Linked DNA regions of Homo sapiens. The protein of the gene in region 2 interacts with the protein of the main gene of each other region in a biochemical or structural test. Each region holds a gene or a part of one and is shown on either strand. Other genes may lie near its edges.

What was found.
Region 1: the proteins of FGF19 (region 2) and FGFR4 form a complex in vitro, tested with the Homo sapiens proteins (2 studies listed by BioGRID and IntAct).

The regions. Positions count from the first base shown.
Region 1 is NC_000005.10:177,089,847-177,093,746, reverse strand, and holds part of FGFR4 (fibroblast growth factor receptor 4 isoform 1 precursor), read right to left. Parts: intron 3,358-3,900; coding exon 3,094-3,357; intron 3,003-3,093; coding exon 2,922-3,002; intron 2,810-2,921; coding exon 2,643-2,809; intron 2,063-2,642; coding exon 1,939-2,062; intron 1,427-1,938; coding exon 1,236-1,426; intron 1,102-1,235; coding exon 963-1,101; intron 610-962; coding exon 416-609; coding exon of another isoform or gene 342-415; coding exon 196-341; intron 94-195; coding exon 1-93. UniProt on the Homo sapiens protein: Tyrosine-protein kinase that acts as a cell-surface receptor for fibroblast growth factors and plays a role in the regulation of cell proliferation, differentiation and migration, and in regulation of lipid metabolism, bile acid biosynthesis, glucose uptake, vitamin D metabolism and phosphate homeostasis.
Region 2 is NC_000011.10:69,701,855-69,705,754, forward strand, and holds the start of FGF19 (fibroblast growth factor 19 precursor), read right to left. Parts: upstream 2,169-3,900; 5' UTR 2,023-2,168; coding exon 1,791-2,022; intron 1,511-1,790; coding exon 1,407-1,510; intron 1-1,406. UniProt on the Homo sapiens protein: Involved in the suppression of bile acid biosynthesis through down-regulation of CYP7A1 expression, following positive regulation of the JNK and ERK1/2 cascades. Stimulates glucose uptake in adipocytes. Activity requires the presence of KLB and FGFR4.

The DNA.
Region 1 (3,900 bases), on a different chromosome or scaffold from region 2:
GCTTGGTCAGGCCGGGCAGGGTCCATGCCAAAGGCCTCTGCACGTACTACCTGGCCAAAGCAGCCCTCGCCTAGGGGCTTCCCAAGCACCAGCCTGGAGATGGAGAAAGTCCAGCCTCAGACCTCCGAGTCACTCCTGCGGAGGGCGGGCTGCAACCCGGCGCCCGCGTCCCTGCCCCCACACAGCTCAGCGCACCTGTCCCGGGGGAACTCCCATAGTGGGTCGAGAGGTAGATCTAGACTCACGAGGCCGGCGAGCAAGGCGGGGCCGCTGGAGGAGAGACGCACGCCTCGTACCAGGGATGAGCTTGACTTGCCGGAAGAGCCTGACTCCAGGGAGAACTGCAAAGTGGGAGACTTGGTTCTGCCTGCTGGAGTCAGGCTGTCACATGTGAGGTGGGGGATGCGCCCAGTACCTGTCGGGCCAGAGGGAAGCGGGAGAGCTTCTGCACAGTGGCGGGCGGGCGGGGGTGCCGGCCGTGGAGCGCCTGCCCTCGATACAGCCCGGCCAGCAGCAGGAGCACAGCCAAGGCCAGGGAGCCCGACGCGTACAGGATGATGTCCGTATACCTGGCCTCGGGCGCTGCTGCGGTCCATGTGGGGTCCTCCTCTGCCCTCGCACATGGACACACACAGACAGACAAACTGGTCAGTGGTGAGACTGGCCGCCCCGTGCACCCTAACTCAGTCCCTCCCAGCTCCCAACATATGTGGGGACACACACGGAGGAAGCTGTAGTTATGCCCAGTCCCAGGCACCCACACCTCAGCAGACGGTCACATGGACGGCCACGTGTGGAGAGGCACAGAGGGGCTGTCATACAGCTCAAACCCACAAATCCACACACTGCCCCCCAGGCCAGACCCCACAGGCCAACAGAGACTGACCACCCAACAGGCCACAGCCCCCACTGCTGGCCCAGAGGGGCATCTCGCAGCATCTCCTGGCCCTTCAGGTGCTCACCTGGCAGCACCGTGAGCCAGGCAGACTGGTAGGAGAGGCCGATGGAATTGCCTGCGAGGCAGGTGTACTCGCCTGCGTCCTCGGCTGACACGTTCCGCAGGTACAGGACCTCCACCTCTGAGCTATTGATGTCTGCAGTCTGGGGTGGGGGACATGCTCTGGGGTCACAGCAGGGCCTGGGGCCACACTGTGGCCAACAGGGAAGCTGGGGAGCCCCCCAACCCAAGGTGGGAGAAGAATGGGGCCCAGGCTGCAGCAGGGTGCACCTTTTACCTTTAGGACTTGCACATAGGGGAAACCGTCGGCTCCGAAGCTGCTGCCGTTGATGACGATGTGCTTCAGCCACTGGATGTGGGGCTGGGCATCGCTGTACACCTTGCACAGCAGCTCCACGTCGCTGCCCACCACGGCTGTGGTGTTGGCCGGGAGCCCGGCCTGCAGGATGGGCCGGTGCGGGGACCGCTCTGGGGACCGGGCGAGACAGTCAACCCTGACCACCGGCACCCATAGAAGCACCCTGTTTGCCTCCCTCCAGCCTTCCTCAAGTTCAAGGGAGGGACCTTTCTGCAGCTTCTTGTCTGTCTCCTGCTTACCCTGCTTAAACCTTCCCTGGCTCCCTATTGCTTCGGGTCAAGGACAACATCTCAGCCTAGCATTCAAAACCCTCCACCACCTGGCTCCCCATATAAACGCCACGCCCTACGAATATGCTGGCCTGCAAGTGCAGGGCGTTTGTTATACTCAGGCCCTCCGCTCGGGCTGCGCCCTCTGCCTGGATGTCCTTCTTGTTTTTCCTCTTGGCAGACCTCTGCTCCTCCAGCCCCACACTAACCCCTGTGCTTTCCCCTGACCCACCTGCTCACCAAGCTGCCTGACTCATCTGAGTCCATCCTGCCTGCCAGACTAGACCCCACCAAGAGGGCACAACTGAGCCCAAAATGGGTCAGGCCTCCCCTGTTCCCAGCCCCGCGCTCACCCAGCACATCTAGCAGGTAGTTATAGCGGATGCTGCCCACAGCGTTCTCTACCAGGCAGGTGTATGTGCCGCGGTCCGAGGGCACCACGCTCTCCATCACGAGACTCCAGTGCTGATGGCGCAGCTGCAGGCAGAGAGAGTGTCCGGGACCACCGGACCATGTCCACCAAGGGGGCCAGAGGACCAGGAGGCTAGATCCTCATCCTGCCCACAGGGCTCTTGTCAAGCTCTCTAGGCCCTGAGAACATCAGGCCCAGGCCAAGGACTATGGCACAAAGGAGTAGGCTCCCCAGGGCGCTTGAGCCTTGGGTTTGAGCCTTTGGAATTTTAGCTCTCCCTCTCCCTAGCTGTGCTACTTTGAGCCAACCCTTGCCTTCTCTGAGACTCAGTTGCCTCATGACAGCATGGAGCCGACCCTGCAGGGTCTCATCAAGACGATGAGATGCTAAGGCTTATGCAGACCAACCAGTCAGTGATTCTTCTCCCTTTACAAATGGAGTTGCTGAGGCTGAGAGGTTAAGTCACTTGCCAGAGAGTAGCAGAAGGGGAACCAGAGCTGCCCAGGTCCACAGTCCAGGGCTCCTTCCGGGGCCCCGCAATCGCTTCACTCATTCGATTGATTTATAGGTATGCTTGTAGGTATGAGGGGACTGATGAAGGAATGAAAATGGGGGAGCAGACGGTCTTGGAACCCAGAGACTCACCCGAATGCCTCCAATGCGGTTCTCCCCATGAAAGGCCTGTCCATCCTTAAGCCAGCGGATGGTGGGCGTGGGGTTGCCTGCAGCTGGACAGCGGAACTTGACGGTGTTCCCCGCAGGTACTGCATGCAGTTTCTTCTCCATGCGCTGGGGGTGTGTCCAGTAGGGTGCTGGAGGGCAGGGGAAGGCCCCTAGAATGACCGTGTGTTCCCACACAGGCCTCCTCTTCTCAGTGATCAGATGAGCAGCAGCGGGGACACAAGTCCTTGGAGACCTACTGACCTTGCTGGGGGTAACTGTGCCTATTCGAGGGGTCCCTATGGGACTTGGGGTCCTCATCATCGTTGCTGGAGGTCAAGGAGTCTACATCAGGGACAGAGGGAAGCATCTAAGGTCCAAGAGGGGCAGGTCTGTCTCCCCAGGCATCCCTTCACTCCCTGCTAGAGTCTCTTACCACCTGTAATCAAGGTGAGATTCTGCAGGACGATCATGGAGCCTCGTGCCAGGCAGAGGTAGCGGCCAGCATCCTCAGGTAGGAAGCTGGCAATCTCTAGGCGGCCCCTCCAGCCCCGTACACGGCCAGCAGGTGCCAGGCGACTGCCCTCCTTGTACCAGTGGCCACCACGCTCAGCCCGCCCACAGCACAGACGCACAGGCTGCCCAAGGGCTACTGTCAGCTCCTGCTCTTGCTGCTCCAGGCTGGGAGCCAGGCAGGGCTCTGTGGGCAGAGGGCAGAGGTCAGCAGACCCCGCAGCCCCATCTGAGGCAGCCTCCTGTGTACAAAGAACACACCGCACATGCAGGGCACAAGCACTTTGCAACGCATGCTGAAGGAGCCACCACTCCTTGACACCCACACAGCCACATGCTGCGGATGCCACACCCAGGGCAAATGCCACACTCTTGGGGCATGTCACACACACAGCATTTAGTGCACACGACAGTGGCCAAGACACACACACACACACACACGCATACACACACACACATACGGACACACACACACACAAGGCACATGCTGTTGGTGCCACATACAGGGTCATGCTGCACCGGGGCATATCACCCTCATAATGCTTATACCACACATGCTGCCTGGACCTCCTAGGTCACACACCCAGTGCACAGAACACACACACACACGCACACACACCCAGGTAAGGAGCTCACCACCAGCTCTGCAGCCCAGCTTAGGGCCCTGCGCCCTGCAAGGCCAGTCCTCTCTCGCAGACACAGTGATAGATGAATGCTTGCTGGAAGCCAG
Region 2 (3,900 bases):
CTCCATGGGAGGCTGAGGTAGCAGAAACGCTTGAACCTGGGAGGCACAGGTTGCAGTGAGCCGAGATCTGGCCACTGCATTCCAGCCTGGGCGACAGAGCAAGACTCTGCCAAAAAAAAAAAAAAAAAAAAAAAAAAAAGGCACAGAGGGATTTCAGGTGACCCAACCCCCAATTTGGGCAGAATGGCGGGTTAGGTTGACGTCCCCTGCTGGCCTCCCATCATTAGGAACCCCCACACCCCCTGCCATAGTAAATGTCAAAATTAAAGTTGCAAGGGTGGGTTTGGAGCGGCTCTGGGTGGGAGTCAGCGTCCAGCGTGCCGACCACCCCCTTTCTCTGCAGTCCTCTCACGCAGGACTCCGCCATAAAACCTGAAACAGGCGCTCCGAGTACACGGAGCACGGCAGAGGCACCGAGCAATTTTGAGACTCTAAAATGCTTTGTCCCGCTGTTCACAAAGGAGCTGGTTGGGCCGGAGGCGGCCCCGCCTCTGCATCCTTTCTGGGGTGGGGGCCCCGGGCAGGCGCGGCCACCCCCGCCCTGGCCCCTGCTCCGCCAGGGAGTCCGGGGCTGCGTGTGAGGCCTGCGCGGGCCGAGACCTCACACAGCCTCCTCTGCGCGCGGGGCCGCGGGAGGGGCGCGGGTTCGTTCCTTTGAACTCCCAGCCTTTGTTCCCGGCCACCAGAGCCCCAGCGCTCGTACACTTCCGGCCCCGGGACCTCTGCGGTTACCTGGGCCTTCCCTGCCAGCCCCCACCCCCTGCCCCCACCAGAAAGCGTTTACAGGACAGGTGAGGCCCGCAGGAGGAAAAGCACTCCCCTGGCGCAACATGACTCCAGCGCATCTGCGTCTAAGCCACACCGTGCTCCTGGTAGATTAAAAATTAATTCTAAAAAAAAAATCTCTCCTATCCCAAATGCACTGTTTTCTGCCTTGCTTGACAATTGATTTGTTTTTAAAGGAAAGTTATGGGTAGATCCTCTTTTTTCTTTCCCATTCTTTTTTTCTTCTTTTATACTGGAGGGAGGGAAACGGAGGCGAGGACCACACACGCGCAGGCAGAGGCTGAAAAGGCCCGAGGTGGGTTTTCCTGTTTAATATCAAAGGAGGCCGAATAATGGGTTTCCTCGGTCCGGCTAGGCCGGCCTTTGACTCAATTGGAAATGCAAAGGCAGCTTTTGCCTATTCTCTGGCTGCTGGCTGAGACCCTAAATTTCCGTAGGAAATCGTCGGACATGCACTTAATCGGTCTTTGCAATCTTTCCCTCGAAGTTGCACGCGGGTCTGGGCGGAGGAGGCGAGGAAACCCTGGATTCGAACCAGCGCCTTTCTCTCCTTCAGGCCTCCGCCCGGGGACAGGCGCCGGTCCCCCGCCCCGGCGCATCCGCCCCGTGGGGACACTTACCAGCCCCTGCATCTTGCCGTCGGCGCCCATGCAGAGGTACCGCACGCTGTGCACGCCCTTGATGGCCACGGTCCGCAGAGCGACTGCCTTGATCTCCAGCAAACCTAGGCGCAGGGGAAGCGAGAAGCTGCAGCAAGGACCGCTGGGCCCGCACCACGTGGGTGCGGTCGGTCCACAAGCCTGTGCTTCTCCCTAGCGTCCCGCGCTGTTTGGGGACTAACGGAGGGATCCTAACGTCCAGGTGCCAAAACCTGGGGTTCCCAGGAGTTGAGGGGTCCGCAGGAGCCTAAGGGTGGCAAAGGAAGGAAGGGCGCTGGGGTGGGGCGCGCGCAGCGGGGTGGGGTGCGCGCGGCGGGGCGGGCGGGGGTGCTGGCGGGCACTCACTGTGCGCGCTCTGGCCCCGCGCGCAGTCCACGACGCCGTCGGCACGGATGCGCAGGAAGCAGCTGGAGAGCCCGTGGGGGCCGGAGGTGTACAGGTGCCGCAGGCGGATGGGGTCGCCCCAGCCGTAGTGCACGTGGGGCCCCGCGTCCGAGAAGGCGAGGGGGCGCCCGGCCACGGCCAGCCAGAGGCCGGCCAGGATCCATACGTGGACCACCACACACCCGCTCCGCATGGCACCTCCCTGGGGCTCTCGGCGCAGCTCCGGCGATGGGGGTGCGGGAGGCTGGGCGGCGACCGGGATGCGCTGCGGGGCTGTGAGTGCCGGGTTGGGATGGTCGTGGCCCTAGATCCTGGACGCAGCGCTCCTGCTCTGACGGCGCGGCGGCTCCGGGCCGGCAGCCTTATATAGTAGCGCCTTACGGGCCCCACGGGTAGGTGCCCAAGACACCCGAGCATTTCTTATCGGGATTGCATCAAGCCTCCGCCCCCCGCACACACCCACTCACACCCCGCCTCCGGCCCCAGCCCCAGCCCCCTCCCCGGGCCCGGGCAGGCAGGCGGCGGCTTCTTGTCCCAGCCGGGGTGACCCCGCCCAGGCCGTTCGGATCTGCGGGAGGAGGAGGCCTCGCTTAGCGGCCGGGTTTCGGGGAACTCCTCCCCACCGCGCAGCGGCCCCGAGGTTCTTGGCTGGGAGAGTTTGACTTTGTAAAGCAATCGACAACTGGGGCCCTTCCCCCAGGCCTCAGGCTCCCAGTGGATGCACTCGGCGTGGGGCACTAGCGGGGGCGGGGTCAGGAACCCCGGGGCCAGAGGTTGGGGGGCACCGAGTTTTGCCCCCTTCACCCTCTGTCGGGAAAAGCCTCACCTCGGCCTTAGTGCCCTTCCCCTTAAAAGCCCACTCGCACTCCCTCCCCCGACTTTCGCAGCCCCGCACATCTGACGTCAAAGCCGTCCCGTAGAATTTTCCCCGGCAGTTCCGACAGTCTCAGGTTCTTTCAGCTTCATCTTCTTGCAATTCCTGCCCCGCCCCTTTTATCCGGGTAAATTGCCCCCCGACGGGGGGCCGGGCGCGCTCTCGGCCGGCGGGGAAACAATGGAAGCCGCGCGGACTGTAGGTGGCGCCGCAGCCTCGGCGTCCGCCTGGGCTTTGCGCTCCTGGCCCCGCGCCCCTGCCTGCTCCGCGCTCGCCCCGGCCCCGCGGCTGTGCGCGAGATGCAACCTGAAAGGGGGCACTGGGAAGGAGGCTCTCGGGCAGGGTGGGCGGGCCAGCTGCGGGATTGGTGAACCCCAGCTTCTCGGCTGGAGGGTGGTGGAGGCAGGGGCGCAGGGAGGGAGGCCTGGGCCTCCGTTTCCCGTTTTTTGAGCTGTCTTGTGTCGGGGGTCTGGTTTTTGAGTCCCCGAGTCCCTGCGCACGGGGTCAGGAGGAACAGCACGGTCGGGGAGGTCGAGAGCGCCTTACCTGGTGGGGAGGGGTCGGGAAGGGGCCCAGGAACGGTGATGGGCGCCCCTGGCGTCCGGGCAGGTGCCAGGTGAGGAAAGAAATGGGGGCCGCTCCATGAAGCGGTTCCTGCCAATAAAGAAAACGACATCCAGAGAATACCCAGGCGGGGAATAAAGGGGTCCTCCTACGGGGCTTTGGTTTAACTCTAATTATTTCTTGTTATTCTTCCAAACCCCCAGCTCCTGGATGTGGGGCCCCAGGAGGCTGGTTTTGGGGGCAGAGCCCTCCTGGCCCAGCGCAAAGGCGATGGGGAGGGCAAACAGGAGAGACAGCGAGAGAAATGCCAGGCCTAATGAATTTCAATGAGCAGAGGCCACATTCATTCCCCAGTCAGTGACTGGCGTTAATGACTGAGGGCGCAGCAAATGTCACCAGGAAAGTCTTTACAAAAAGACATCATCCCGAAGGCTTTCTAGACCAGGGACCCCCACGCTGTGTGTCTTGGTTCAGAAAGCCGTGGCTTCTGTTAAATCTAATTACTTCCCCCCTGTGGCTTTAAATCGACGGCGGCTCCTATTAAACTTAATTACCCTCCCCTGCAGCTTTCGTTTTAAAGATCCGTGGTAAATGCGTGATAAATGCTCTTGAGGGCGATGGCAGAGGCTGCAC